4 separate regions of the Homo sapiens genome follow, and all the other regions are reported to be linked to region 1. Evidence: microRNA targets listed by miRTarBase, many of them from high-throughput screens and not tested one by one. Region 1 holds a microRNA gene; each other region holds the end of a gene's coding sequence. Distances are between the middles of the regions.
Evidence for each region. Region 1 holds the annotated microRNA hsa-miR-146a-3p (CCUCUGAAAUUCAGUUCUUCAG, at 4,728-4,749, opposite strand). A microRNA usually pairs through its seed, bases 2 to 8, with sites in the 3' UTR of a target mRNA and lowers its output. Matches are read on the target gene's strand: a 7mer-m8 pairs with bases 2 to 8, a 7mer-A1 pairs with bases 2 to 7 and ends in A, and an 8mer does both.

Region 2: miRTarBase lists CORO1C as a target of hsa-miR-146a-3p. Seed matches in the 3' UTR shown: 8mer at 3,779-3,786.
Region 3: the mRNA of SPATS2 is a reported target of hsa-miR-146a-3p. The part of its 3' UTR that is shown has no 7-base or 8-base seed match.
Region 4: the mRNA of ADCY2 is a reported target of hsa-miR-146a-3p. Seed matches in the 3' UTR shown: 7mer-m8 at 3,878-3,884.

What each region holds. Positions count from the first base shown.
Region 1 is chr5:160,482,514-160,490,156 of GRCh38, reverse strand. It overlaps MIR146A (microRNA 146a), which reads right to left and starts at 4,805; the gene lies at 4,707-4,805. It overlaps MIR3142HG (MIR3142 host gene), which reads right to left. Exons shown (of 2, transcript NR_132748.1): 2 at 2,731-4,858.
Region 2 is chr12:108,641,352-108,648,994 of GRCh38, forward strand. CORO1C (coronin 1C) reads right to left here. Exons shown (of 11, transcript NM_014325.4): 9 at 7,612-7,643; 10 at 7,254-7,499; 11 at 3,758-6,171. The coding sequence ends at 6,052. It overlaps LOC105369968 (a long non-coding RNA gene), which reads left to right. Exons shown (of 3, transcript XR_007063449.1): 3 at 1-5,314. Among named protein-coding and RNA genes, the nearest start is that of MIR4496, 9.4 kb to the left of the region's middle.
Region 3 is chr12:49,525,189-49,532,831 of GRCh38, reverse strand. It overlaps SPATS2 (spermatogenesis associated serine rich 2), which reads right to left. Exons shown (of 14, transcript NM_023071.4): 14 at 5,407-6,888. The coding sequence ends at 6,577. Among named protein-coding and RNA genes, the nearest start is that of KCNH3, 10 kb to the left of the region's middle.
Region 4 is chr5:7,825,473-7,833,115 of GRCh38, forward strand. ADCY2 (adenylate cyclase 2) reads left to right here. Exons shown (of 25, transcript NM_020546.3): 25 at 1,247-4,609. The coding sequence ends at 1,399. CFAP90 (cilia and flagella associated protein 90) reads right to left here. Exons shown (of 3, transcript NM_001089584.3): 3 at 4,906-6,557. The coding sequence ends at 6,378. Among named protein-coding and RNA genes, the nearest start is that of CFAP90, 22 kb to the right of the region's middle.

The DNA of each region.
Region 1 (7,643 bases):
GGCCTCAATGCATGCTCTTCTGTTTTCAGTCACACTGCAGAAACAGAGGCAAAAGATTTTTTTTCTTTCCTTCCTTCTAAGTTCATGTATATTTGTATACATTTTTTAAGTAAAAATGATCTTTTTGCTATAGGGATTTTGGTTTTGAGGCTCCACGTCACCAGTTACCAGCTATATGGCACGGGGCACAGATACGTTGCAAAATCTTTTGAAAATTCCACTTTCCTATCTCTAAAATTAGGATTATGAAAAGAGCTATGGCCAGGCACAGTGGCTCACGCCTGTAATCCCAGGACTTTGGGAGGCTAAGGCAGCCAGATCACTTGAGGTCAGGAGTTCGAGACCAGCCTGGCCAACATAGCGAAACCCTGTCTAGTAAAAAATACAAAAATTAGCCAGGCGTGGTGGTGGGCACCTGTAATCTCAGCTACTCGGGAGGCTGAGGCAGGGAGAATTGCTTGAACCCAGGAGGCGGAGGTTGCAGTGAGCTGAGACCACACCACTGCACTGCAGCCTGGGTGACAGAGCAAGACTCTGTCTCAAAGAGAAAAAAAAAAAGAAGAGCTATTTCACGGAAGAATGTGGTGTTCAGCAAATATACTAATGTGTGTTAAAGTGCTTTACAAATTGTAAATCCTAACACAGTACAAACTTTAGTGAAAGGAACATAGGTTCTTACTGTGCAGTCCTGATTAACATCCTAGCTGTGACACTTAACATGTTGTGTGTGAAATTTAAGCAAATTATGTAACCTCCCTGAGCCTCAGTTTTCAGATATAGAAAATAGAGAAATCTTTCATTATTACAAGATACCTTGTGTATCTTGTAAATATCCAATAAAGTTGTAATTATATTTTCTGCACTTTCCCAGGAATAATCAAAATTAACTCTTCTACTTGGAAGGGCTTCCGCAGGAGATAGGAGCAGAACATCCTTAAAAAACTGTTGTGAAATCACCTTAGTGCTAAGAAGAGCAAAGAGGAACTAGACAAGATGGCTTGTACCCTGGTTTCCTGCCCCCAGAGCATTTTTCCAGACTCTCTGACCACCTGGACACCCAAACTGGGAGCTGCCTCTCTGAAATATTATTAGAAAAGAGGGCAAGAGTCTAGATGTGAGAAAATATGAAAAAAAGAAATTTCCATTTTAACTAACAAAGGTTTGACTGCTGGCAGGACTTAGGAAACCACTGTGTCCCTAAATCAGTGAATCCCAGCAACCTAGCACAAGGGAAAGGCAGACTGTGAGGTAGTGTGTCCAACTTTCCACCTCATCCCATTAATGTGAGCTGATAAATCATGACCTTCCTTTGTTATCAGAGGATGGCAAATCAATACTTCCATTATCATTATTATTACTCCCAAGGCACCTCTCTAGCAGCATGTGAGCTATTCTCTCCCAAGCACAGAGCCGAAAGGATGGCTAATCTGCTTCTGAGACCCCATCAATCACAACAGGAAGAGAAAGGATGAATTGGGAAGAAGAAACATAATAGTACGGAGGGGGAAAACAGCATTTGAAAAAGCCTGGAATAGTTGCTCTAAGTGTCGTCCTAGGACCTCCTTGATGACATTCAGTGAGTGATGGTTAAAATGACAGATACTTTGGAAATGCCTAGTCTGTGGGTCAGGGGCATGACCTGCCTTAATTGACAACTTCTTCAAGCGGTTTTATGCACCTAAAGTTTGCACATTAAAAACCTAGAAATCTACTATTCACCGGTGGAAATATCACTTGTAACCATCTTGAAGTTTTGGGGTCCTGCTGTTCATCTCTCAGAAATAAGTTTTGCGGAATACTTGCATGCATACTTGTAGGAGTGGGCCAGCATCTTTCATGTCAATGTCAGCTATATTTCAGTTCCAGGGGAATGCAGATGTCCCTTGATTGACCCTATCAGTACTAAAACTTTAGTGTGCATAAAAGTCAGCCAAAGGGTTGGTAAAACAGAAATTGCTGGGCCCTACCCCTAGAGTTTTCTATTCAGGAGGTCTTGAGTGGGGCCTGAAAATTTACATTTCTAAAAAGTTCACAGGTTGGTTAGCTAATCCAAAAGTCATTCCCAGGCCAAGCGTGGTGGCTCATGCCTGTAATCCCAACACTTTGGGAGGCCAAGGTGGGCGAATCACCTGCAGTCAGGAGTTTAAGACCAGCTTGGCCAACATGGTGAAATCCCGTCTCTACTAAAAATATAAAAATTACCCAGGCATGGTAGCAGGCGCCTGTAATCCCAGCTACTTGGGAGGCTGAGGCAAGAGAATTGCTTGAACCCAGGAGGCGGAGGTTGCAGTGAGCCAAGATCATGCCACTGCACTCCAGCCTGGGTGACAGAGTGACTCAAAAAAAAAAAAAAAAAAGTCACAGGTGATACTGATGCTGCTGCTCCAAGAAACACATTTAAAAACCACTGGCACACATGGATGGATTTTTGGAGAGAGTTCTTTTTTTATTTAGGCAGAAAAGCATGATTAAGGGAGAGGGGAAAAAAATCACTTGCAATCTTAACACCCACTACCCACTGGATATCCATACACTTACACGGATACACACACACTTCTCCTCGTGCAAAAAAAAAAAGAATCACACTACATATTACCCTGTGCCTATCTTCTTCATGGGACAACAAATCAGGGCTCTCTCTCCACTCCTCCATGACCCACCTCTATGGCATACTGTCTAATAAATGCACAGCATGAGTACTGTCTGGACTCATCACAATTGGGTGTTATATTGTCTTCAATAACTTTATTGTTGTAACCAAACATGTTCTGTGTTAAGTCAAACAATAGAGAAAAATACAACCAAAAAGAAAAACACATCTCAAATCCCACCACGTCAGAGATAACCATTGTTAGCAAATTGATGTACATCTTTCAACACACGTATTCCTACATACATTTATTATTTTACATAAACTGAATCATAGACACCAAGTTATTTTGCAACATGCTTTTTCCACTTACATAAACCAAGTTTTGGTAAAGCAAATACAACCTCAAAAATCTTTGAGAAATGTACTATCTAATGGAATCTTAACACAAATTCTCTATGAAATGAAGCATTCTTTTATACAGTGAATTTCTGCCTACTCCTCACAGATACACTAGGTTAATTTTTTAATGTGTGTGTGTATCTGTGAATTCCATATTTCATTTATTAGGTTTGCTTTAGGAAGAGTGCCCCTGAAATAAAAATGAGCCTTTTGTACTAAATCGGAGTTCTGAGCCAAAGTCAGTGTCCACAGCACAGAGGAGCTGAAACCCAGAGCATTTGGAGCTTCTAGTATATATTCTGGATTTTCTCCATCAGTCTAGGACTGAAGACACCGATCTCTGGTGTCGGTTGAGATTTCACCAAGGTTCTGGTTCTGGAATGAGTCACTGGCTAAGGGTCTGATAAGCAAAGGGCGGAAGTGGGCAGAGTGTGAGAAGGGTGGGGGAGGTCCTTGATCTGATCAGTACAACCCAGAGAACACACCCATGTCCCACACGCTTGCGAGGGGGCCTTCATAATAACCAAGCACCCCTTTCCATCTGTAGAACATGGTTACGTGTTTTTCAATTTGCCATCCTGTTGTTAATTTGTCCCCGTTTTCCAGATGAGGCTTGGTGAGATTCACTGAGATCATGCATACAAAGAAAGCCCTGAGCACAGTGCTTGGCACATAGTGGGCACTCAGTAAACCTCGGTGTCACTGAGAAGACAGAATGAGAATGAGCATGCTGTGGAGTCTTTCACCTGCCTCTCCTCTGGGACAGGTTACTCTTTCATTCTGTAGACTGTAATGACATGGAAATTCCAAGATACCAAGAGACAATGATGAATCAAAGATGAGTTCCCAAAAGACAAATCACATCCCTTATTCCCCATCAAATCTAAAGCCTAATAAAGTCCATATAGCACTCATGAGGCCTCTAACCTTCTGCCTAAAAGTGATCATCATCACAGCAAACCTGAGCCTCAGAAAGGACCTAGCTTACTTGGTGACAGAGGAGGGCAACAGAAGGACTTGGCCCATGGCACCCAGCTGACCATGTCAGCAAATAGAGAGGCCTTCAAAGCCTTTGCATTCCTGTTCCCTGGAGAAACTGAGGATTGCAGTAAAGTGTAATTACAACCTCTTTTTGCCTTGTTTGAAATACAAAGGGACAATGTAGCCCTAATATATTTATAGAAGGAAGTAGAGATCAAATAAAGGAAGAGGGGGACCAAAAGAAGGGCATATCCATGTTTCTCATCTTCTTTCACTGCAGATCTTAAAAAGGAACCAGAAGCCTCAGCAGTCCCTGCTAAAGAATCATTGTCACATTCTATTAGTTCCCTCTGATCCCGTGAAGAGGGGGGAAAAATCATTGCATGGCAATGCCATGTGTCTCAAGCTTCATTAAAGTGATTTCTCCCAAGAGTCTCGTATAACAGCATGTAAAGCACTTACAACAGTACCTGAATCATCGTAAGTAATCAATAAATGTAAACGAGTAGCAGCAGCAGCAAGAGAGACTTGCTGAGATCATTCATTTAGCTACTTGGAACCCTGCTTAGCATAGAATTCAAGTCTTTTCACAATCAAATGAGTGTTTCTCACAGGAACTCACACTCCTTATACCTTCAGAGCCTGAGACTCTGCCTTCTGTCTCCAGTCTTCCAAGCTCTTCAGCAGACTGAAAAAGTTCTTCAGGATCTACTCTCTCCAGGTCCTCAAGCCCACGATGACAGAGATATCCCAGCTGAAGAACTGAATTTCAGAGGTCTGACACTGACACAACCCATGGAATTCAGTTCTCAAAGCTGAGGATACACATCGGCTTTTCAGAGATGGTGCAAAGACCCCTCCTTGCAGTCCAGGCCTGTCCCAGCCCTGTAAAATACAAGAGTGAAAAGCCTGGTAAATCCAATGCAGCTGCTTCCTAGTACCAGGTCTAGTCCTGGCACTCATGAGTTATAAACATCTGGAGGAGACCAGGCCAGCAGTCTGGAAGGCTGATGTGGGTGGATCTCTTGAGCCCAGGAGTTCAGGACTAGCCTGGGCAACATGGAGAATTTGTCTCTACTAAAAATAAAAAATGAGCCATGCATGATGGCCTGTGGTGGGAGGATCGCTTGAGCCTGGGAATTGGAGGTTGCAGTGAGCTATGATTGCACCACTGCACTCCAGTCTGGGCCACAGAGAGAGACCCTGTCAAAACAAAAACTAATCTGTAGGGGATGTGTATGGTAGACACACACATCATTAAGCATCATTAAACATGGTAGCTGGCCTTTCCTGCCTCATGACCCTTCCATATGCCATCCCTCTGGCCTGGAAAACTCGTTCCTCTCTTTAACATCAACTTATCCTGATGTTCTTGCTTTCAATGTCACTTCCTCAGAGAGGCCATCTATGGCAGAGATTGCTGATTGTTTGCCCAATATATATTCTCTCCTCCTTCTATACTAATAGAACCCTTAAGTGGTATCTGAACACATGGACATCTGACTTTGTTTCCTCACCTGGTGTGACAAAGTGCTGGATATGAGCAGGAGTGGAGAGTTTTTTACTGTTTCCCTCCCTCTTCTCAGGCTTGGACTGTAGACATGGTAGAGAGCCACTGTGGACCATGCAAATGAGTGCAGCCCCCCAGGGAACAGCAGAGCAGCATGCCAGAAGAGCCCCAAAAGTGTGAGGCTTCCTTATACACCCTAGACTGCTTACACCTGCACTGATAGATCAGCAAGAATGGAACATTTACCTTATTTAAGCCACTGTTACTTGGGGATCTCTGTAAGAGCACTTGAATGTTTACCTACCACTCCCTCACCATCAGCCTCCAGCTAGTCTCTTTCATAATATGGGATTCTTTCCTTCACCGTAATTTGTAATTGTTAGATAATTTTGTATAATTATTTGATTAAAATTATCTCTCCAACAAGACTGTTTTCCATAAGCATAGAGACCATGCTAGTGTTTTTTAAATATGTATATAGGCGAGATGTGGTGACTCACACCTGTAATCTCGGAACTTTGGGAGGCTGAGGCAGGCAGATCACCTGAGGTCAGGAGTTCAAGTTTCACTTGGCTAACATGGTGAAACCCCGTCTCTAACAAAAATACAAAAATTCGCCAGGCATGGTGGCGCACACCTGTAGTCCCAGCTACTTGGGAGGCTGAGGCAGAAGAATCACTTGAACCCAGGAGGCAGAGGTTGCAGTGAGCTAAGATTGCACAACTGCACTCCAGGCTGGGTGACAAAGCGAGACTCTGTCTCTAAAAAATAATAATAAAATAAAATAAGTATATAATAGCCTTATTGAGCTATAGCTATATAGCTCACACACCAGAAAATTTACCTATTTAAAGTAAAAAATGCATTGGTTTTTAGTATTTTGCAGAGTTGTACAACCATCATAATCAATTCCAGAACATTTTCATCATCCCCAAAATAGATCCCATAACCATTAACAGTCAATCTCCATTCCCCTCCCTCACCCCTGGGGAATCACTGATCTACGTTCTGTCTATATATATGCTGGACATCTTATATAAATGAAATCATATAATCAGCGGCCTTTTGTGACTGGCTTCTTTCACTTAGCTTTCAGGATATATCCATGTTTTAATGCGTATCAGTACATCCTTCCTATGGATGAATAATATTCCATCGTTAGGATCTACCACATTTCATTTATCCATTCATCAGCTGATGGGCATTTGGGTTGTTGCTACCTTTTGCCTATTTGATGCTTCTATGAATGAATACCCATGTACAAGTTTTGTATGGACATATGTTTGCATTTCTCATGGATGTGTGAACCCAAAAGTATCTGAGACAGACCTGAATCCATTTAGGAAGTTTATTTTGCCAAGGTTAAGAACATGCCTGTCACACAGCCTCAGAAGGTCCTGACAACATTGTGCCCAAGGTGGTCGGGGCACAGCTTGGTTTTATACATTATAGGGAAACATGAGACATCAATCAGTATATGTAAGATGTACATTGGTTCAGTCTGGAGAGCTGGGACAACTAGAAGCAGGGGTGGGGGCTTCCAGATCATAGGTAGATACAAGACAAACTGTTGCATTTTTTTGTCTCTGGTTAGCCTTTTACTGAATACACAATTTACATGTGAGAGGAGGGTAGAGGAATAGTCACTTATTCCTTAGTCTGGCTTAGTGAAATAATAGGGCAGAAGAAGCAATCAGATATGCATTGGTCTCACATGAGCAAAAGAATGACTGAATTCTGTCTGTCCTTTGTCCACAAGGAATTTCCTAGTGGGCAAATTGTGAGGGAGGTATGTAGCTTTTTTATCTTTGTAGCTAGCTTACGTAGGAATAAAATGGGAGGCAGGTTTGCCTCACACAGTTCCCAGTTTGACTTCCCTTTGGCTTAGTGATTTTGGGAGTTCTGAGATCTATTTTCCTTTCACAGACGTATACCTAAGTGTGGAATTTCTGTGTCATATGTTAACTCTATGGCTATCAGTTGATGAATGGCCAGACTGTTTTCCAAAGCGGCCACACTATTTTACAATTCCACCAGCAGTGTATGAGGGTTCCAGTTTCTCCACATCTTGCCAATACTTGTTAATGTCTATCTTTTGAGTATAGTTATCCTAGTAGGTGTGAAGTGGTATCTCACTACGGTTTTGATTTGCATTTCCCT
Region 2 (7,643 bases), not on the chromosome of region 1:
AGCTGTAGGTGGGGATGGTGATAAGCAGCCCAGGATTTTGTTCGCCAAGAGGTATTATTCCAACTTCCACAACCCAAATAGCATCTCTGCACGGAAATGAAGCTGCAACAGCTCCCTGTCATGGATGGGGCACTTCCCAGTTCTCAGACTTCATCACTAGAGCCCCCAAGCTTGGATGTTGTTGCTGAACTCCCTCAAGGCACTAAGTGTTAGCCTGAGCACCTCTCCTGGCTGGACCAGGGGTCACTTGCTCCATTACAGTTCTCTCCAGCTCGGTGACACTCTCACTGTAAATGCAAGTTCTCACTCAGTGAATGCCAAGACGAATGCAACCCTACCTAGTGGGGTAGAGATTAGGAAATGGGCGATGAGAGGCACAGGGCTCTTGGGAAGGGAGCCCTGCTGCTGGGGGCCTGAGAGACACCCAGTGGAGAGGAGCCTGGACAAACTTGGCAACCAGCCCCAACCACGTTCCGCAGCATTTTGGGGGCCAGGCACCCTGTGTGTGATCCCTTTCCACTGTAACCAGGCCTGCTCCCTGCTCTTCCCCTCGGAGACACAGATGACTGCTCCTCTCTGGCAGCCCAAAGCTTTCTCTGCCCCCACAACTGCCTGGGGGCCTTTGAGCCACTTCTCCCCAGTTCTGTTCCAAACCCACCAGGAAGTCCTTCCCCAAAAGTCCACTTACTCTTTGAGATCAGTGTGAGGAAGCTACTCTAAGAACAAAACTAAGCACCCGGTGGTGAGTGCCCAAGCTCAAGTGTGCAGATTTTTTCTGACAGCAGAATAGACCTGTCTACTTGCCTTCCAAGTTGAGTCCTGAAGTGGGTAACTTCCTCCTCTGACTTCTGCCCTCAGGCTCCCTGGGCAACGGCCCTGACGTTGCTTTCTAGCCCCTCACCATGAAGCCTGTCAGGGAGCCGCGTGCCTCACCCTCTATCTGCCCCTCACTAAACTCAGGATCCTAAAATCTGCCCTCTTACCCATTTTCGTTCACATGAATTAAACTCCAACTACAATGAATTTGAAGGATCCCATCTGCCTCTCTAAACTCACCCCCCTCCACATTTCAGCCAATCCAACCAACTCAGCAGTCACCTTATCCTCAAGGATCTTGGGATGCGCAGTAATTCCCATCTCCCACCCAGCCCTCCTGACACTCGCCACAGGGGAACTTTCAGCCGGCACACCACGGCCAGTGTCGCCTAGCGAACACACCCCCCCCCACCCCACACCCCAAAGTTCGAAGTTGAGAATAAGCCATTTGCTGGTGGACTCGGTTCCCACAGGAGGGATGAGGACAGCTGCCATCTGCACATCAGCTGCCTAGGACTTAACATTTCACACGTCACGTTTCAAATAGAGGCAGCAGCTGCAGCTGAGATGAAGCATATCAAAGTATACTTAGCCCTTACTATATTGGAAGAAAACGTATTTCCCAGTTCCGATGACCTTTGTTTTCTGCCATATTAAAGTCTTACGTAATTTAATTTTTATATAGCCAATCTGTCTTTTCCTTTGTGATGTATTCCATTGCTTTAGGGCTTACATTTTTTCTAGTCTGAAGTGTAGATTAAAAGGGACTTACTTTCTTCTAAATAGAAAAAGAAAAGGTTTTATTTTAACTGTGGACTCCATTAAGAATGTATATTGGTGTCCCTGCTGCCCCCACAGCTAACCAAATGTTGCTGCACCATTTCAAACATCTCCACTGATTTATGCTTATCTTAATAATTATTAACTTATCACTAATACATTAATTTTAATAATGCCTTTCTGGGAATAAATACATTTATAGGAAATTTCTAAATTCAGAAAAATAGGATTAAATAGAAATTACACACAACTTTACCTCCCTATAGCAATAACAACATTTCTGGTATTTATTCTACACATAAGTATACATTGTATATGCATATATCCTTTAAAAAGTTTGTCACAAGCCATCTGTTCGGGGTTGGTTTTACATATCTGTATTAGGAAACCTACACCTCTCACTAGAAGTTCTGGTCCTGAATGTTCTTATGAGGTCCAATGGACTTCACTTTCTTCCCCATTTTACTTCTGAATGGATTAGCCAACTAACATCATTTACTGCAGAGTGACTCCATGGGGTAGAGAGCTGATGAGAATTACTTTGTAAACACACTTTTTATGCTGACATCAGCAACACAGTTCACTGTAGGGCTCTTGGCATACACAGAAAAAAGTTGGTAGTGACATCCAGCACCCAGAAATAATATACTTTCATGTTTCAACCTAGGTAGGTATATATTTTAAACCCAAGTTGGAATTGACTTTATTTTACTATTTTTTTAATGTTTCCTATTCAATACTCTTTTTAAATGACTTTAAATAATGGAACAGAATTATAACATATGGATATGACAAGTAACTTACTGACCCCCTTCTGCAGAGTTGATTTTACTCTTCTAATTCCTGAATATACCTCCCACTAGTTCCCTGGGACAAAATTTCCAAAGGTGAGAATCTTGGGTCTTAAGAAAACCTTTAAGGCTTTTGATCCACTTGCCAGACTGCCCTCTGGAAAGGCTGTCCACCCCGCACATACCCGCTTTTCGCAGGAGAGGACTGCCACCCCTACATTCTTTGGCAAGGGACTTCTTTTTAACGAATAAAAGAGCACAAAGGGCACTGTCCGGCCTGGACATCAAGGGTTGCCCGTCTGAAGCAGGAAAGGCGTGCCCTTGACGGTGACTCATGTCCGTGACCCACTGCCAGCACTGGGATACTTAATGTGCCCGCAGAAAGAGAAGGGCCCACTTAGAGTTAACAGATTCTTAAGAGCCAACAAAGAGTTTTTCTGGGTGTAGAATACCAAGTACAGCAAGGGAAGTGACCTTGAAAAAAAAAATGGAAGTTCCCCCCAGACGAGGTCTGGCTGGCTGTCTGGGGCCAGCATGCTGACCTTCAGGTCTTCTGGCAAAGAATCAAGGTGGCCCGAGTGAGAAAACAAGTTAGTCATAAACAGACCACCACGCGTCTCCTGGCTGACTGCGGGCACCTCGGGTCTACAGAGAGCCCTGCCAACTTCTACTTCCTGCAGCCACGAGTGGACCAAGAACATGGCAGCCATTCTTCTCATAGACTAAAGCAACTTTAAGATAAGGCATTTGAGGAAGGGGAGCTTTATGCTGACCATTCATCATATTCAGAAAAAGCAAACAGTGGGAAATTCTTTGCTACAATCACTGAAATGTCACGAGACAATGTCATAGTGCGAAAGGGAAGCCCTGCAATTCAACTGACCCTGGAAGCCTGCTGGAATAAAAGTCACAGCTGAGCCAAGAGAATTTTGCTTCTATTGAAGAAAAAGTGCTTTCAAAGACTCTGTCAGAAAATCAACTCATAATAGTAACAGTAGCGGCCATGCAGCGAGGGTTGTTTGTGTGGCCACACAGGTATTCCTCTCATCTGAACTACATGGAATTATCATCCTCCTTTCAAGAAAAGGGACTCAGAAGGATTAGGAACCCCATCCCAGGACACACCGCTGGCAAAGGTCTGAGGCAGGATCCAAAGGCTCAGGTCTGCTGGAAGCCAAAACACAGTGCTTGACTGGCTTGGAGACCTCACTTGTACTTGAACTGAGCCACCCACACGCGCTTCCCCTGTACTTACCCCCGGAGAGGAGTATGGCACCGTGCTCGTCCACCAAAGTCAGAGAAGCTATGTCAGGCAGAGAGGTGGGGGCTGCCTCACAGACAGCCAAGGCGTGAAATAAACACAAACACCATTTTGTAATCAATGATTTTTATCTCTGAAAATGGAAGCAAGTGTTTTGACAGAACACTATGGCCACTCTATAAGAGCCGACCTAGGAGTAATTCACTGTCCTCTTCTGGGATGTCATGGCTTAAAAAAAAAAAAAAAAAAAGACAAAACAGGAAAATAATCCACAATGCTTTGGGCGCCTACTCTGAGCTTGGCTGGGCATCCATTCATTAAATAAGTCATAAGCTACAAACTAAGATCAGGGTAACTTTCCCTTGCCCTCCTGCTTCTCTTTGAACCACATGCCCTACGGTGTTTCACCACCATCAACAACTTTACTTCATTAATTCGATATCAGAACCTTAAAACACTACTGAATCTTAGACAAAAGGTCCTCAGCAGATTACATTGATAAAGAAACAAATACAGATTTGAATATAAGTCATTGCCATTATTGTTTTCTTTACATCTCATGATCCACTTCAATATTAAACACATACATACACACACACAAAACCACATCAAACATTCAGATGCCCTGAAATTGTGGAGACAGCACTCCCAGTATTGGCTGGATAAGAACATGGTCCTTTTTCTACACGGACATTACTCCAAGTTCGGCTGTCACCACACTCTGCCCTCACCCTGGCTCCCTGCATACAGACGTTTCCAGCCAGTCCCATGCCCACACCAGCACGAGCATGTGCAAGAATTCCCTTCGTGGTCCCAATGGCACTACACATTTCACGTTCAATCACAGACAGCCCTTCCAAAACAGAGGCTCCTTAAATCTTGTTTCCCAAGCATGCACTATAAGAAACTGGAAACGGGGCAAAGTTCCAGCTAACCGAGGAATGAACAGGTGACCAGAGCTCAGTCTCTGGCCCCCTCCGAGTCCGGGGAGCCTCTGTGCTTTGACGCAGCCTTGGTGAGAGATGGAGAGGCAGGGCAGGTTAGTTGTGCGGAGGGACATGTTTGTATGCATTAAAGCTACAGCAGAGGTCTGTGCTCCTGTTTCTGCTTCACTCTCTATCATTCTCCTCAGTCTCAATACTCATTCAATCGCACCCTCTGGCCTTGTCTTAGCTTAATGTGGTTAGAGCTAAAAGGCAGGAAGGAAAGAAGGAATGGCTGGGGGAGCCCTGAGAGAGGTCGCAGCACATGTGAGGAAGAGGGTAGAGCAGGAGCTTTGTTGGTGGAAGGAGAGCCACTTCCTCCTCCAACACAGCATGGGGACAGCACAGGGAAACAGGATCACCCAGGGCAAATACCCCTCTCCACATGCCCACATTTTTAGTCCCCACCACTGTACTCAAGAGCTGGGCAAGCTGCTGAAAAGGGCAAGAAGGAACACTCAGCAGTACACGTCTTCCTGTCCTGGGCACCCTTGTCAAGTATTGACCAAAACCTGAAACATGATGTTTAAAGTGATGAATGCAATATGATCCTAGGTGTGTAACAAACTGCAGAAACACATGCTAGTTTGGGTTAGATTATAATCATCTGAAGCACAGGATAACCGAGAAGCAAAATTCCATTCTGGTACAAACACCCAATTTCTAGAAAAGAGAAAGGAAAAGAAGAAATACGACGTGAGCTTTTTTGATCAGAAGACTCCATGAAATGAGAGCGGTGGTAATATGAATCCACGTGATTTTTCAAGTCTTCCTGTTGTACAGTCATCAAAATGACCAGGTTTGTGCTGCAAAGGAGCCAGCACCATGTGGCTACTGCTTTGATTGTTCTCAGATGAATGTTTATACAAAATAATATCTTATCTTCATTTAGTTTATAAACATACACAGTGCTGTCCCTTTCAAATTAAGGAAAAAAAACCACACACACAAATACTGCAAAGTAGCAAAATACAAAGGAAAACAAAGCTACTTTTGGTTTTGGCAACATTAAAAAAGAAAGAAATATAAAAAGCAATGTGGCATTGGTCCCTATTCATTAAAAAAAAAAGGGTACTTGGGCACGACACAATCAGAATTAGTTTGTTTTCTAAAATTCAGAGTATCTGGGATTTTAAAAGTAGCACTTTTTAAAAAGTTCAACAAGTCACATAACACTTAAAACATCAAAAAAGCTTTCTGATAAAAAGCTCAGCTTTTAAATCACGTTTTGTTTCTGCAAATTTGGGAGACAAATTGAGTTCTTACTGGAATGTGGCCTATCGCTGGTTGACAAATCTGAAATGGAATGTCTCCAAATGGCAGTGCCTCCCTTTCCGCCCTCCCTAGGACCACACCAATAACCAGCTCCCAAGCACAAGTTCTTGCTCCCATTTTTTCTGTAGGGGTGGGGGTGGGACCTTCAGGCTGCTATCTTTGCCATCTGCTGTTCTAACTTGGAAATACGCTCATCTTGATTGCAGATTGTGTCTTTTATAGATTTGATCTCTTTTAAAATCTCATCCAACTTGGCTTCATTTTGCTAAGAAAACAAAAAAAGGAGGCAGTGATTAAAATGCAGTAAACAAAGTTCAACACTGTTCAAAACTTGTAAGATATAAAATGTAGTTTTCTATTTTGCAAACGGCAAGCCATAGTCACCAAGTTGAAAAGAGAAGTCAAAGCCCTACTATGTCTGGGGCTTTGAATGCAATGAGCACTGGCCGATCTATCTGAGATCCCGTGGCAAAACAACAGTGTGTCACAGTGTCACAGTGCCACTTCTGATCCCGAAGCCTGTGCATTTACTCAAACAAAGGGTCTCCTGGGTCACAGTTAGACTATAGGACAAAACAGGCTCCTTCAACAGTGTCCTACGTCCTAACCACCCCAATCATTCCATCAAGAGTAACTTCTATCTGACCAGAGAGAGGGGTGACTCTCCCAGAGGCTACAGAGCTCCTGCCATCTGTGAGGCTCCTTCTTGGGAGGGAAACCCTTGCCCTGTGTGTCCACTCCTTCTCTCTTACCCAGGACCTGCTCTCCCGGCAACAGCAGCACTCTCCAGTGGCCGCAGCGAGTCAAAGGCAGGCTTGATTCCCAATTCCCCACCCAAAGGGCTCTTGCCTAAATCCCCCTTGTTGCCAGCCCCACACCGCCAGATCCTTCTGTCGTAGCCACTCAGCTACATCTGAACACGTGCCACTCCCTCCTTCCAGGGACCTCCTCTCCCTGGTGCCTATGACCCCACACTCCCATGATATTTTATTTCTACCCAAATCAGAGAAGGGTTTAACTAGTTTGGCAAAAGACAGGAAAAACCCAAGAGGCTCCTGTTCACACTGAGAGATAGGAGGAAACTGATACCTATCCCAATCATGGTGGTCTGTGGCCACACTTGGCTCCTTTAATGGGGCTAAAGGAGCTTTAACTCCGTTAAAGGAGGCAAGTGTTGCCACAAACCACCACCATCACGTGACCGAGGACCTTCTCCCACTTTTTCATTTACTGAAAACCCCTGAGCACCCAGCTGGGACAGTACTCGCCGACGCCCTGGACCACAAGGGCTTTCTAGAGGATAAAGCCTGAACCAGCCAAGCACCCCTGCACTCCACTGGTCCTCACCACACTGGCCGTGTCTGTGGTTTTCTTGGGGATGCTGATCAGGTCGCACTTCTTGTTTGCAGTGGGCTTGCTATCCAGAATGTTCTTCTTGACCACCTTGAGATCCCTGTTTTTGCCTGGAATGTACCCGTGCTTCAAGGAGATGAGGATTGGGTCTGCATTCTTGCCTTCGAACCACTCTTCTGCCTCCAGCGCGGCCTCTGGCCCCGCTGTGTCAGGATACAGGTCATCTTGGAAAAGGTCAGACTACAAGAGACATTTGGCACCCGTGGGTAAGGAAGAAGAAAGGCCTGGGATTTTTGAATTTTATTTTTACATTTGTTTAAAATATGGATTGTCTAGAAAACTCAGCACTCACCTTCCTGGGAACAGTCATAATAATAGGTTCAC
Region 3 (7,643 bases), not on the chromosome of region 1:
CTGGCTGGATATAGGGGAAGTCTTCTTTCATATACTTTTCAACAAAGCAGGACAGACAGAAAAGGAAAGGGGCTATGGGGAGTGAACATTCAACTTGTCATGGGTTAGCCTAGACACGCAGGGCACTGTTTTGTAGCACCTGGCTAGATGTCTCATAAAGTCGTTACCATTGTCCCACTTCACAGTTCAGAAAGAGGTTCAAAGCTGTTATCTGTCCAAGGGCAGTCGGTCACACAGCTACCAAGCTGTGAAGCCAGAATTAAAATCCAAGTTGAATCTTTATACTCTACCACACTGCCTGGCCAACAGGCAGGGCTCCCAAGGGTTTAAGGACGAGCTCTACTTCCTTTACCTGCAAAGCAGTTGAAGAATGAGCTAGGGCTGGGCCTGGTGGCTCATGCCTGTAATCCTAGCACTTTGGGAGGCTGAGGCAGGCAAATCACCTGAGGTCAGGAGTTTGAGACTAGCCTGGCCAACATGGTGAAACCCCGTCTCTACCAAAAATACAAAAATTAGCTGAGTGTGGTGGCAGGCACCTGTAATCCCAGCTACTCAGGAGGCTGAGGCAAGAGAATTGCTTCAACCAGGGCGGCAGAGGTTGCAGTGAACTGAGATGGCCCCACTGCACTCCAGCCTGGGTGACAGAGTGAGACCCTGTGTCAAAAAATATAGATTAAAAAAAAAAAGAAGAAGAATGAGCTAGAATAGTTTCTGGCTCAGAACTCAGCAGAGTGCCTAGCACACAGTAGGTACCTCAATGTATGATGGAGAGAAAATGTGCCCAAGTGGCTACAACAACCAGAAACTTGATTTTATAGTATGTTGTTCTGGCTACCAGCATTGTGAGCCGGTACTTTGAACTCGTTGGTTAAACTAGTGATAAAATAGTTTCTTGTATCAGTTGGCAGCCTCCCAGCATGTATACCTGTTTCTTCCAAGAAATGTGCTGCCATAAGGATACAATCCTCACCAAATGGGACCAGAAGGTGGGATGAACCCTACAAATCAGGGAAGACAGAACCTCATTTTCTTGGGTCAGATGGTAGAATTTTCAGGGGCAACAAGACATTATTCTACTGACCTTCTCCAAGAGAACGGGTTAGTACAAAGATGAGTGACATGCATCCCGAATTTTCCGGGTCACTCCTAACTTCAACTAGTTTATCCTATTCCCTCCCATACATACATTCATACTCACAAGACTGTACCCTGGTTTGGGATTCTGAAATATAATGGAATGTCACTATCTCCATACACCACTGCACAACTGCCTGATCATATGCTGGTATAGTTCTGGCTCAAGCATGGGACCCAGCCCTTTCGGCTGTGCTCCCTCCACCTCGAAGACAGCATGGCACTTTCAAGCAACACTATTTCCTTGTATTATTTATTGGTATTCTCAGTTGCATCAACTGGTTTATCAGCCATGTGAAGTCAGGGATTGTTTCTCTCCTTAGCTTCTGGCTCAGCAACTGTACAAAGCATTGCCAAACACTGGTAGAAAATGTAAACCTGGTGGCTGGGTGTAGTGGCTCACACCTGTAATCCCAGCACTTTGGCAGGCCAAGGTGGGAGGACTGCTTGAGGCTAAGAGTTCGAGACCAGCCTAGGCAACAAAGCAAGACCATATCTCTACAAAAAATAAAAATAAAAAATTAGACAGTTGTGGTGGCATGCACCTGTAGTCCCAGCTACTTGGAAGGCTGAGGCAGGAGGATCCCTTGAGCCCAGGAGTTTGAGGCTGCAGTGAGCTATGATCCCACCACCGCAGTCCAGCCTGGGTGACAGAGAGTCCATATCTCTAAATAAATAAGTTGCATGTGTGAATCCGTGCAACTTTATCAAAATAATACTTTATCAATAACTATATGACCTAGTAATTCCACTCCTAGGAATTTATCCTACAGGGATATTCTCTCAAGTGAGGAATGATATATGCATTATGGAATGCTCATTGCAGCAATACTTGTAATAGCAGAAAACTGAAAACCATCATTAGGGACTGGTTAAACTAATAATAACAAACTTATACAATGGAATACTATGCAGCCACAGAACAGAGGTCTATACCTCGTAGACCTCCATCCACGTCAGTAAGTAGAAATATACTTGATTTTTCTTAAAACAAAACAAAAAAATGAGTTACAAAAAGTGAGGACAAGTGAAAAAAGCAACTTGTATAAGGGTATGCACAGTATGAATCCCATTTATGCAAAAGAAAGAAAAGGTACTTCTATGTTTGGGTTTAGAAAGTTTCTGGAAAGACATGTAAGAAACCAGCGATTTCTTCGGGGGAGTGGGACAAGGTAGAGAAAACTTTTAAATTTCTACTATGTACCCTTTTTTGTGTTTGTTTTTGTTTTGAGACCGAGTCTCACTGTGTTGTCCAGGCTGGAGTGCAGTGGCGCGATCTCAGCTCACTGCAACCTCCGCCTCCCGGGTTCAAGAGATTCTCCTGCCTCAGCCTCCCAAGTAGCTGGGATTACAGGCACCCGCCACCATGCCCGGCTAATTTTTTTTGTATTTTTAGTGGAGACGGGGTTTCACCATGTTGTCCAAGCTGGTCTGAAAACTCCTGACCTCAGGTGATCTGCCAGCTTCGGCCTCCCAAAGTGCTGGGATTACAGGCGTGAGCCACCGCACCCTGTCCCCCGCCTTTTTTTTTGTGAGACGGAGTCTCGCTCTGTCGCCCAGGCTGGAGTGCAGTGGCAAGATCTCGGCTCACTGCAAGCTCCGCCTCCCGGGTTCACGCCATTCTCCTGCCTCAGCCTCCCGAGTAGCTAGGACTACAGGCGCCCGCCACCACGCCCGGCTAATTTTTTCTATTTTTTAGTAGAGACGGGGTTTCACTGTGTTAGCCATGATGGTCTCGTCTCGATTTCCTGACCTTGTGATCTGCCCGCCTGGGCTCCCAAAGTACTGGTATTACAGGCGTGAGCCACCGCGCCCAGCCCGGTCCCTTTTTTTTAAAAAAAAAAAAAAAAAAAAAAAAAAAAAAGCTGGTCTGCACTTTTGTTTAAAAGCACATTTTTTTTAAATCGCCATAAATTAGGGGCATAGGAAATATATGATGTTCATAATGAAGCCATGCTAATTTAAATTTTGCCTCTCAAGTGTCATGTAACTGGCAGAGCTAAACAACTTAAAGTTGCAGTCCTATCTCTTAAGTTGGGCAGGGTGAGACATTTGTCTGAAAGAGGAAGTGGAAAGAGAAGGACAAACAATGGTTAGGTAAGGCCTCTTGGTGCACCAGTGGTAACTGCCCAGGGGATGTATCTTCCTTCTTTTGGGAAGCCTAGAACCACTATGGGCAATGAGGAATGGGCTACACAATTCAAACTTAGGATAAACCTAACTTCTCATTGAAGAAGAGTCAAATTGGCAAATTTAGGAGAAGATCCACAGCATGAGATCCTAAATGAATTATAGTTTACACATATTATTTAAAAAACTACAGAATATACATAGTACTATGATCTTTTTTTTCTTGAGACAGTTTCGTTTTTTTTTTTTTTTTTTGAGAGTCTCTCTCTGTCGCCAGGCTAGAGTGCAGTGGTGCGATCTCAGCTCACTGCAACCTCCGACTCCTGGTTCAAGTGATTCTCCTGCCTCAGCCTCCTGAGTAGCTGGGATTACAGGCACCAGCCACCATGCCCAGCTAATTTTTGTATTTTTAGTAGAGACGGGGTTTCACCATGTTGGCCAAGATGGTCTCGATCTCCTGACCTCATGATTTGCCCGCCTCAGCCTCCCAAAGTGCTGGGATTACAGGCAAGAGCCACCGCGCCTAGCTGAGACAGAATTTTGCTCTTGTTGCCCAGGCTGGTGTGCAATGGCGTGATCTCGGCTCACCACAACCTCCGCCTTCGAGGTTCACGTGATTCTCGTGCCTCAGCCTCCTGAGTAGTTGGGATTACAGGCATGCACCACCACACCCAGCTGATTTTGCATTTTTAGTAGAGATGGGGTTTCTCCATGTTGGTCAGACTGGTCTTGAACTCCCGACCTCAGGTGATCCACCCACCTCAGCCTCCCAAAGTGCTGGGATTACAGGCGTGAGCCACCGCACCCAGCCCAGTATGATCTTTGTATAAAAAAAATTAAAAACCCATATACTCATGTGTATATGCACATACATGGTTTAAAAACAGTCTAACCAGGAGTGATTGTGCACAACTGTAGTCCAGCTACTCAGGAGGCTGAGGCAGGAGGATTGCTTAAGCCCAAGAGTCCCTTCTAATCATGTCCGTAAATAGCTACTGCACTCCAGCCTGGGCAACACAGTGAGACCCCATTTCTAAAAAGAAAAAAGGTGTAGAAGGATATATGCCAAATTAACAGTCATTACCCCTGAGAAGTGGAAAGATGGATAACTTTTTTTCCTTTTATATTTCTGTACTGATATTTTAAATACTACTTTCGTAATAAAAACTTTTTTAATTCATAATTTTCAAACTTTTTGTGGTCATGAAAAATTTTCAAATATTTTTCTATAAGGAGATTTTAATTTCAACTTCAAGGCATTTTTGATAAACATGCCTTGTCCCATCTGTCTGGGTGGTTAAGTACGGTCTTGCCTGGATACAGGGACAGACCTCATAATCCTTCAAGGTCACTTCAATCTCTGGATTTCTGATAAAGTACAGGTAAGCAATTAATCAGAAATGCAGGGCTTTTTCCTGACACCCAGCAGGCTGTTGGTGTCGTTGGACAAATTCCCCAAAATGAGGTGCTCTTGGAAAATACCCAGAACTCCTTGACTACTGTTTTCTTTACTGACAGACAGACAGACACACACACTCTCTCTGAATGTGTTCAACCAACCTGAACCCTGGCAGCTCAGCTTCACTCAGCCAAGGAGGCAAGGGAAGCCCTGAGGCAGCTACGTTCTGCACGGCTGCCACTTACAGTCTGGGCTTCAGACTTGGGAGAACACATGCCAGAGAAAGAAAAGCTCTGCTGTGATTAAATCACAGATGCTGGGGGTGAGTGTGGGGTGGAAGGGTCTGGCACCCATGCCACCTGCTACACGCAGGAGCTCAATTATACGGTTACGTTCAATACTCAGTCAAGGGACAGGGAGTTGGGGAGAGCAGTGCCATTATAAACTTTGGTTACCTGGGAGAGCCTGGAGAGCTGTGGTTTTCTTAAAGTGGTTAAGTTCTCCTTTGGAAAGTCACCATTCCCTATCCTATGATCCTTTCTCACTAGGAACAACTGCATTTGCTCTTCCTGGCTTTCATATTTTAATTTGGTTCTGAAGCTACGCAGTGGTGGCAGACAAATGACTTGGGAATCAGATACCCTCATTTAATCCTGGAACAAGCTGTCTGAGTGACTTCTACCCCCATGAGGCCCAAAGAAAAACATAATGAAATGAAACCACTTGCTGCTATGAAACAAAAGTGGGCATATTTATGCAGTTGTTTTTATTTATTCAACTGTAAAGACTGCAGCAATTTTTTTGATGAGTAATGCCTTAGATTAACACTAATTATATTGCTATAAATTTGGTTCAGGATCAGAATAGGGTTCAGGAAAGGGAGAGAACAAAAAAAAAAGTCTCCAAACATTAAAACAGAAAAATGCTTTTTTTTTTTTTTTTGAGACTGAGTCTTGCTCTGTCTCCCAGGCTGGAGTGCAGTGGCACAATCTCAGCTCACTGCAGCCTCCGCCTCCTGGGTTCAAGCGATTCTCCTGCCTCAGCCTCCTGAGTAGCTGAGATTACAGGCACACGCCACCATGCTCAGCTAATTTTTGTATTTTTAGTACAGACAGGGTTTCACCATGTTGGCCAGGCTGGTCTTGAACTCCTGACCTAGTGATCCACCCGCCTCAGCCTCCCAAAGTGCTGGGATTACAGGCATGAGCCACAACGCCCAACCTTTTTTTTTTTAAACTTTAATTAAATGCTACTTTCTCATAGACTTCCCTAGACTGGTTTGCAATCTAAGGTAATAGGAAACAAGGCATTGGGCATTTTGAAGAAACTGCAGGTTAAGCTATGGTGCCAAGCAGAAGACTAAACACTGATTTGAGTGTCAAATCTCCAGCACATTCTGGGATAGAGGCAGGTTCTCAAATGTTTCCTAGTGTTCTTTCCTTTTCACTAATTAAATTTTCCCTTCTCTGGCGAATCCAGTGCAGTATACAACCCCCTGATTGCCTCTCTTGGTCAAATAGTTGTTAGAAGGGAACCTGTCAGGCACCTGTGGCTTCGGCTTAGATTGGAAAGGTGACAGACTAGCTCTGATTCACCTCCTCCTGAGACAGCCTGGACAGTGGAGGGATCAACTGGAAGGCCGAAACCTGGTAACAGCTGCCTCTGATTCCTGGTGGAAATGACCAACCAGATTCAATCCATATCACTGGGAAAGATCAAGGAAAAAAAATAGCTTCCCCTCCAAAAATGGTAAAGAGGAAATAAGGAGACAAGAAACCAAAAATACTTAGAATGGCACAAAAAGTGATACGCATAAACTTCTTTTTGTTATTACATCTAACTGTAAGTTTCCTAAAGTCCAGTTATCAAGTTGAATTGTGTGGATAGAGGAGAGAGGCCAACTGGATTTTCTCTCAAGAGTTCACGGCTTCAGTCTGAGAGGTCCTGGGTTTGCGCTGGGGGAGCCCCTTTTTGAATGAAGGCGTGGGAGGGCTGGGCTCCATGCTGACTCCAGTTCCATTGGTCCCTGCAGAGTGAGTCTGGCCTCTTTCAATGGTGTTTCCTGGTGCCTGAGATGGAGCACTCTGATACCTGGAACCAGATGAATACCACGAGCTGTTTCTGTAACGACCCATACTGTCATGCCGCCCTTGGTTCATGGGGTCATTGGACTTTTGGCCTTGTGGCCTATAGCCCTGTCCTCCTCGTCTGTTCCCTGGCAATACCTAAAGATGAAAGAATACAATGTTCAAGGTGCTCTAGCATTATGGTACCCCATTCGTTCACTTTACAGGAGTATTCTGAAAGCAGAATTGTGGTATCCCATGCTTGGGACTCAGTTATCTCTCAAGACTCAAAGAATTCTCTCAGCCAATCCAACCTAGCCACTACTTCAGAACTAATCCATCTTTCCCTGCTCTTCATGCCCAGGCTCTTCTCCACTGAAGAATTTACTTTTCTTTAGCTGGATGCAAGAAGAAAGATAAGGAAGAAAGAACATTCTCTGGGTTGTTACAAGCCCTCGATTGGACAAGTATATTATATTATGTCTGAACTCTGCAGATAAAAGGCCATTGGTAAAGATAATACACATTTGGAATAATAAAGTAAACATCACTATGGCCTGCTTTGCTAAATGTCATGAACTACAGATTAAAGTATGCTGCTGTGGCATTCAGCACATCTTTCGCATTATAATCCGGAAAGCTTACGGTATGGGATTTTATTTTTGTCCTCCAATTCCAAACATCATACCAGTTCTGAAGAATTACTGACAGTACTGCCTTGGATTGCTCTTGTGTTTATTCTTCAAACAGGAGAAGAACCTATGGATTACTCCTCAGCTTTCTAGTGTTTTCCCCCCATCCCCACCAGTTCACTCTCTCTTTCCCTGTAAATTCCACATTGTGCTTCTAGGGAGCTGCTGCTTTCAGATGCACACTGGTAAAACTGCCACTTGTGGTGCCTGTCTACCTTGAGA
Region 4 (7,643 bases), 150 Mb from region 1:
ACTCCAGTGCTGGAGGTGGCCAGGGTCTCACAGGTGCCCTTGTTGCAGCCATGCCAGCTGCCTTCTCAGATGAAGTGGGAGGAGATTGCTCCTTTGTGCCTTTTTCTCATGGTTCCAAAGCAGCATTACCAGGGCTTTCTGTCTGCCCAAACTCAGATACCTGCTAGGGGACACTGGGTGGAGGAGCAGGTAGCCAACAGAGGGGTCTTCCCTGGCCTCAGAAGCTGAGGCCTCACCCTCAGACCACGCCTGTGTGTCTCACTGGTTCTCTGCTTTTGCAGCTCCTCCACACTCAGGCAGCCCAAGCCCAGGCAGGCGCGGGCCCACAGTCCCAGACAGGGTGTCCTAAGGAAGGCGCAGCACACGCAGAAGCTCAGGGAGCCAGTACTGGACAGTGCATCTCCGCTGAGGAGGAAGCTGTCAGAGCCAGCAAGTTCACGGCCATCCGACCTGCAGGGCCTGGACATGGTTCAGCTGCCGGGTCCCTCGCCTGTCGGTGCAATGGCAGGAAATAAGTGGTCCTGTCAAGCCAGCAGCCTGCAAGAGGGGCTGCCCTCCTTAGCCCCCGTTTCAATGCAGTGAAGCGAGGAGACCTTTGAGACTTGACTGGGAGCATCATGCTCATGCGGACACCAGTGCAAATTCCTACAGCTCTTTCAGTTTTAGGTTACTTCACTCAAAGGCATCAAACCTGACAGACGCGACCATTGGCAGGAGTCTACAGTGCTCAGTGCTCCTTCTCGGGGTGTTCCTCCCATCGACACTGACATCTATGATTAATGTTTATTTCATGAAAGGACATTCATGACAATGTATAAACATCATCCAGAATCCCACCACTCCAATCTATTTTGGTTTACTCTCTTTCATCCAGGTCTCTTCAGTGTGAATACATAACATCATGTGGTTGAAATCATAGCCTGGATCCAGGCTCAATTCCTTTTCTGGGTGAAATGGTTTGACATTGTGTCATCCATGATAGCATCATGGTAGCACCGTAGTTTACTGGAGTTACTTGAATTTTAGGTTGTTTCCAGTTTTTCACTATCCCAGCGCTGAATTAAACAACATTGTCCTTTACAACCTTTTTTTCTTGTGGATTACTCTCACTTTTCTACTAACTTCTCAGGAGTGGAATTCCTGGGTCAAAGAGCATGGTGCTTTTTTTAGCTCTGCATCCTTGAGTCAGATGGGTTGTATCAATGTATGTACTAAGCCCGTTTTCCCGTGTTCCTGTGCCTTCTAGGTTACCGAGGAGACGAGCCTCGTCCTGCAGACCCTCGGATACACGTGCACCTGTCGAGGAATAATCAACGTGAAAGGAAAGGGGGACCTGAAGACGTACTTTGTAAACACAGAAATGTCAAGGTCCCTTTCCCAGAGCAACGTGGCATCCTGAAGAGTCACCTTCATTTTGGCAAGAAGACTGTATTTTCAGGAAGGTATCACACACTTTCTGACTGCAACTTCTGTCCCTTGTTTTTGATGTGCGTGCTGTCTGTCCTATGGAGCCTCTGCAGACTCGTTCTCGTGACCCAGTGGCATACCGTTTGGTGTCTGATGTGTGCCCAGATCGTTCTGCCACTTGCACTGTGCTTGCTCCTAAGCAAAAGGGAAAAGGAGCGCGCGTGATAGAAGAAAAGCACTGGGAGAACTAACAGAGGAGAAAGGTGAAACACACACACATTCTTAAGGCAATAAAACTAGGGGGTGTATATTATCTTCTGGTGCATGTTCTTTTCTGGAAAATATGGTAGCTCGCCAACCGCATCTGCTCATCTGATATTCAAACACACAGTATTCGTGAATAAGTTGATTCTGTCCCCCACGTGGACTCTGTGCTCACCCATTGTCTCATTGCCAGTGGTGTCCAAGGGCCCCCGTTGGGACCCACGGCTCTCGTCCCTCTGCTCCGTGTGTCTCATGCCAGCAGCACGTCGCCATCCGTCACCAGAATTAGTCCTCACAGCCTAGGACCAGTTTTGTATCAAACTCGTCTGATGTTTTGATGCCATTTGTCTTTTGTAAAGTTAATTCATTAAAAGTTTTATGTACTTTGATTTACAGTGCCTGTATCTTTTATTTTCCTGTCTTCTTTCTCCTGTGGTTTGCTCCAGAATTAAGGTTTGTTTTCCATCCATTCTCCCTTTTGACACAGTTGTTTCAGAAAGAGCTCTCCAGAAGCCAATATTGAGATGTAATTCAGATTAGGACACAGTGTGTGACGCAGATAACTGGTTACTCAGCTCCCTGGAAAGCAGGCAAGCATGTTGAATGTATCTAGTGGTCTGATTTTAATTTGGGCATCTCTAGAGAACGCTTTCAGGGAAAAATACTTTAATAGTAAAAAGATTCTCTGCGAGCAACAGTGCCCCCTCCGTCCACTACGCTCCTGTCTCCAAGAATGTTTTGCTAGAGCTAACAGACATAGACTGCAAAAGAATAATTTGGAATCAGCTATGCAAATCAGTCTCACAATAGCGTGAGCTAACTGAGAGAAGTACTAAGACCCACAAACTGCCTGTTAAGTCTGAGAAGGCTAAAGAAGACACACAGCCAACGTTCATGCATTTTTAAAGACAGAAGGCCTTGAAGAATTTGTTCTTGTAAATCCAACACAAGTTGTTTGGTACTTTTAACATAAAGAAATCATACTTTGCCAAATAGTGAAAAGTAGAGCAATCGTGTATAAGCTAATGTTTAAAAGCAAAACTGCAAATTGTAGCCCAGTTGGTCAAACTTGTTTTCTTTTTATAACTCATGGCAGGCATCTGTAAGAAGTAGAGAACCCAGATGATCTCTTAGGAAGCCTTTTATTCGTGGGAACTCGAACTTGAAGCACAAGTTCCTGGTTTGAATCCTGGCTCTGATTTTTTACTGGCTGTGTGACTTTGAACACATCTCTTAGTCCCTCTTAGGAGTACTTTCCTTATTGGCAACTTATGGACTCGCTAGTGATTAAACGAGGCAATGACTGTGAGCGAGCCTGGCAGGTGCCCCGTGGTACATTCACAGCACGGGCACAGCTGCTGTGCCAGGACTGTGACTCATTCCCAGTAAAAGGCACTTATCGAAGCTGATAACCGTCCTTCATCACCGAAGTGTGAGTAGAGCATGACTTATTTAGTATTCTGCCTCAATGGGGAATTTTTTGATCCTGTAATCACAACTCAGCATTGGCCTTAATATACCTAAATCTCCAAAAACAGTGATTAAAGCAAGAGAATTATTACAAGGGCTTTTCTCTTTCCTCTAACTCATTCTTCACGGATGCCGTAGCGTTTCCGTGAGCTCAAACTGGCCTTGGTGTAAAATGTGTAAGGATGAGCAGCAGGCGTGCCTCGTGGGTTCTTCCTCTGTTACATCCTGCTACACTCATCCGCAGGTCACCTTAGTTCACCTACCCTGAGTGAACACCCCCAGCTGGGTGGTCCACCAAGTTCTCATAAACAGAGTCCCTCCCATTCCCCCACGGGGTGCACCGAACTTGGGTTTGCGCTAAAAAGAACTCAAAAGGAGAACTGTGCTCTCCCAAAGCCATATCACCAGTCTTACCAAACAATAGGCTTTTAAAAGCATTGAGTCATTGTCAGAATCCACTATGGGAAGCTCTGTGTGTACCTGGTCCCTTCTAGGTGTGGTCCCATAGGAGCAGCCTTAGCATCCCCTGTGAACTTATCAAAAATGCAAATTCTCAGGCCCCAACCTGAAGGAGGACCCTGAATTTGAGATCCCCGGGGCTGGGGCCCAGCACAACTGCTGTTTAGTGAACAGGTTCTCCAGGTGATTCTGATCCCTGATCAAGCTTCAGACCTCCCTCCCTCCCCAGTGTTTTTGCAGGTGAGGAAACAGGGGCAGAGTAATTCAGGCACATGTGTTCAGAGTTCCACAGTTGATTAGCAGTTGAGGCCAGGCTAGAATGGAAAACTGCCTGTTCCTTGAATCTGAAAGAGCATTATTCCTGGTCAAAGCTCCTTAAAGTTCTGGGCAGCTAAAAGCATCCCTGTGAGCAAAAATGCCAGGCAGAAAACTGGCAGTGCACCTCTCATCAGCCCAGGTCCCAGTGCCATTGGCTTCAAGAAAAAAAAAAAATCTCTCCCCAATGCTCTCCTTAACCTTTAAGTCTTACAGGAAGCCTCTCATAGAAATTGCCTCCAGTCCAGTTTCCCAAAAACCCCAGTGTTTTACATATCTGTTTAGGAGTGTCTAAGTTTTGTCATCAATCCAGGATGTTATTCTTCCTTCCCAACTCACTGTGCTCCTAAAGGCAGCAACCATTCATCTTTCCTTTGCTCTGGATACACCGAATGACCAGGTAACATCATCAGGCCGGGTGCAGTGGCTCCTATAATCCCAATATTTTGGGAGGCCGAGGAGAGAGGATCACTTAAGCCCAGGAGTCTGAGACCAGCCTGGGCAACATAGCAAGACCCCCATCTCTGCAAAAAAATAAGAAAATTAGCTTGGCATGGTGGCACGTGCCTGTAGTCCCAGCTACATGGGAGGCTGAGGTGGGAGGATCACTTGAGCCCAGGAAGTCCAGAACGTAGTGAGCCTTGATTATACCACTGCACTCCAGCCTGGGTGACAGAGCGAGACTCTGTCTCAGAAAAAAAAAGAAAAAAAAGAAAAAGCAACATAATTGCCCAGTGATGAAAATTTGATAAACCAAAACAATCCATTAATATAAGAAGATATGATGTGTGATGGCTTTAACAAGCATTCATGCATTGGCTTTAAATGATAAACATTGGGATACCGAGAGAAATATACTTCATTTTCTCTTATGGCCTAACAAATGTGAGATCTTTTGAAATCTTGGCCAATTACAGCCCTGCCTTTTGAAAGTCAGTATGTAGTAGAAGGTGAAGGGAGTAAGGTCTGACTGAAAGTAAATGAAAATAATTTAGTTTGACTTTGATTTATTACAGTCACTTACAGATGCCTTGTCTTTGTTGAAATCAAGTCTGAATAATGAATAATTTATAAATATTTCTATAACCCAAACTTTATATATTTTCTATTATGTTACTATAAATATGGTATAATGCACCCAAAGGCATTCGAAATAAACTACTGCCATTTGTTTGAAATAAATAAAAGACACCTACACTGAAAAACTGTTTTCAAAAAAATAAAGAAATACTTAGGAGTCACTCAGCCTTGAAATTGCCGGAATTCAGTGTCATTTATTTTTAGAGAATCCTTTTTCCATATTCAAAACAATAAAACCAGTGATGGAGCGATCAGTATTGAAATTAATTAGGCCACCTGCCCATTCACTGCTAAACTGTGGGAAATTTAATCATGGTAGATGAGAGATGATTTCTTCCAAGGGATCCATTCATTAAAAATGTAGCTGATGATACTTTAATACTTGGGTAAGTTTCAAATTATCTCCAAAGTAAGTATTTCCAACTTAGGTTACAAGCGACTGCTTCCAAAAAGAAGACTGTTTAAAGTCAAGTCATTGCTGTGATGACGGGGCACTGGGTGGGGCACACACTGGGTACCTGTGTTATGCCTGTGCTCCAGCAGCTCATTGCCTCCCGCATGAACTCCTCTAGGTTTGGAAATTCCACTTTAAATATGAGGAAATGTCTGCTCATGTAGATGATATGACTTGCCCTAGAACACAAATCTAGAAAATGCAGCAACCAGAATTTTACCCAAGTTTGTTGAACACCGAAATCTAGCCTCTTCCCATGACTGGCCCCCTCTCTCTGAGCAGTAATAGTGAGCATTGCTGGCCACCAGGGCCACCCATCCTTACTAGGGCTCCTGGTCCCTACTGCACAAAATTCTGTTATTTGGGATTCAGACCTCTGGAAAAACAAAAATGGAGTTTCTAGAGTTCAATTGTGCCAAAAGACAATTGTCATCACATCTCCTCTTGGAGAAGGGAACATGTCAGGGTTGTTTGTGTTCAGGCAGCAGGAGTTCCCCTAACTCGTGGGAAAAGCAACTGCACCTCACTCCTGTGACTGCCTCCCCAAAGAATCCTGGCAAATGTAGAGAGCCAGTGAACAGAAACCAACCCAACAGTTACCAAGGGGAAACAAAGTTTTCATTTTATTCAGGTGCTCACAATGAATCGGTCTCCAGATTCATTTGATCAAAAATAATTCCAGCTGAAAATCATCACATCAGAGACTCTTCACATGTACTAAAGGTGTTGTTGGTCAGGCTCCTAACCCAGCAACCTGAGGGGGGCTGCTAACGTGTTCATGTGTCCCACTGTAGAGATGCAACACAGGCATAGCCAAGCTCCTAGGCGTCATGAGAAGGGGAAAGGAGGCTCCAGATGCCACCTTCTCGCTGTGCAAACTTGCCAGGCCACAGGGTATCGGACATGCCCTGTGGGCCACGGGGATGCTTCAGGATGGAGCAATGTGCCCAAAGCCGGGTTCCTTGAGGCTGGGGATGTCGTTCTTCCTGTAGAAGTCAGCCTGCACATGGTTGGCACGGCCAAAGTCCCGGTTTAGGGGCTCAATGGGCTGATTGATGCGCTTCCCATAGACAGAAGACGTCAGCACTCCAACCGGCCTCTCCTGTTCCTGGTGAAAGTTATCAAAGCACATAGTCAGCACCACTGCATTCGCCAGCACAGCTCACCCGTGCATCCATCAGCCTGGGTCCTGGGAGCTTTTTCTGCCTGGGTCCCACCATGGTAGACCAAGAGGGAACCTCCACGCTGAAGCCAGGGGCTTCACAGGGAAGTAGCCTATGGCAGGGAACCGTTGAATTTGCTAGAAGGCTGGCTGGTGTATTCATTGGACATGTTGGGAAACTGTGCCGGACCATTTGCTCTACCCGTTTGTCCCTGTGCTCTTCCTGGTCATTTCCCAGCTCCTGCTGCTGCTGGTCCCTTCCCACCACCCAGATCCTGGCTCAGATGTCCAGGTCCTCCCTGACCCCTCCCCTCCCCAGCTCCCTGCTCATCCCTCTCACTTTCCCCATCTTACATCCTCACATGGCTTCCTCTTCCCTCATACCACTCATCACTACCTAGAATTTGCTCATCATTTCTTTTTTTTCTTTTCTTTTGAGAAGGAGTCTTGCTCTTGTCGCCCAGGCTGGAGTGCAATGGTTGCAACCTCTGCCTCCCAGGTTCAAGCAATTCTCCTGCCTCAGCCTCCCGAGTAGCTGGGATTACAAGCGTGCACCACCACGCTCGGCTAGTTTTTGTATTTTTAGTAGAGACAGGGTTTCACCATGTTGACCAGGCTGGTCTCGAACTCCTGACCTCAAGTGATCCACCCACCTCGGCCTCCCAAAGTGCTGGGATTACAGGCATGAGCCACCACACCCAGCCCATGATTTCTTTGCCTTTTTCTCTCTTCCTTCAGGAATGGCAGCTCTGAGAGGGCTTTTTTCTGAAAAACTACCTGCCACAGTTTTCTCCTGAGGAAGACAATAACTTTGCATCAACTTAGAATGCACCACATGTGCTGGTTATGGTGGCTTGGTAACTAAACTTGGAAGAAATGTTCTCGTGTGTGCAATTTCTGCTCCGCAAGACCAACTTTTCTAGAAAAATTATGAAAGCCAGGACTCAGAGGTTAAGCAGAGACTTGTTTTATCCGTTGAAGGGAATGTCTTAGCTTTGCTGTCCTTAAATTGTTAAATTCTAAAGAACCAAA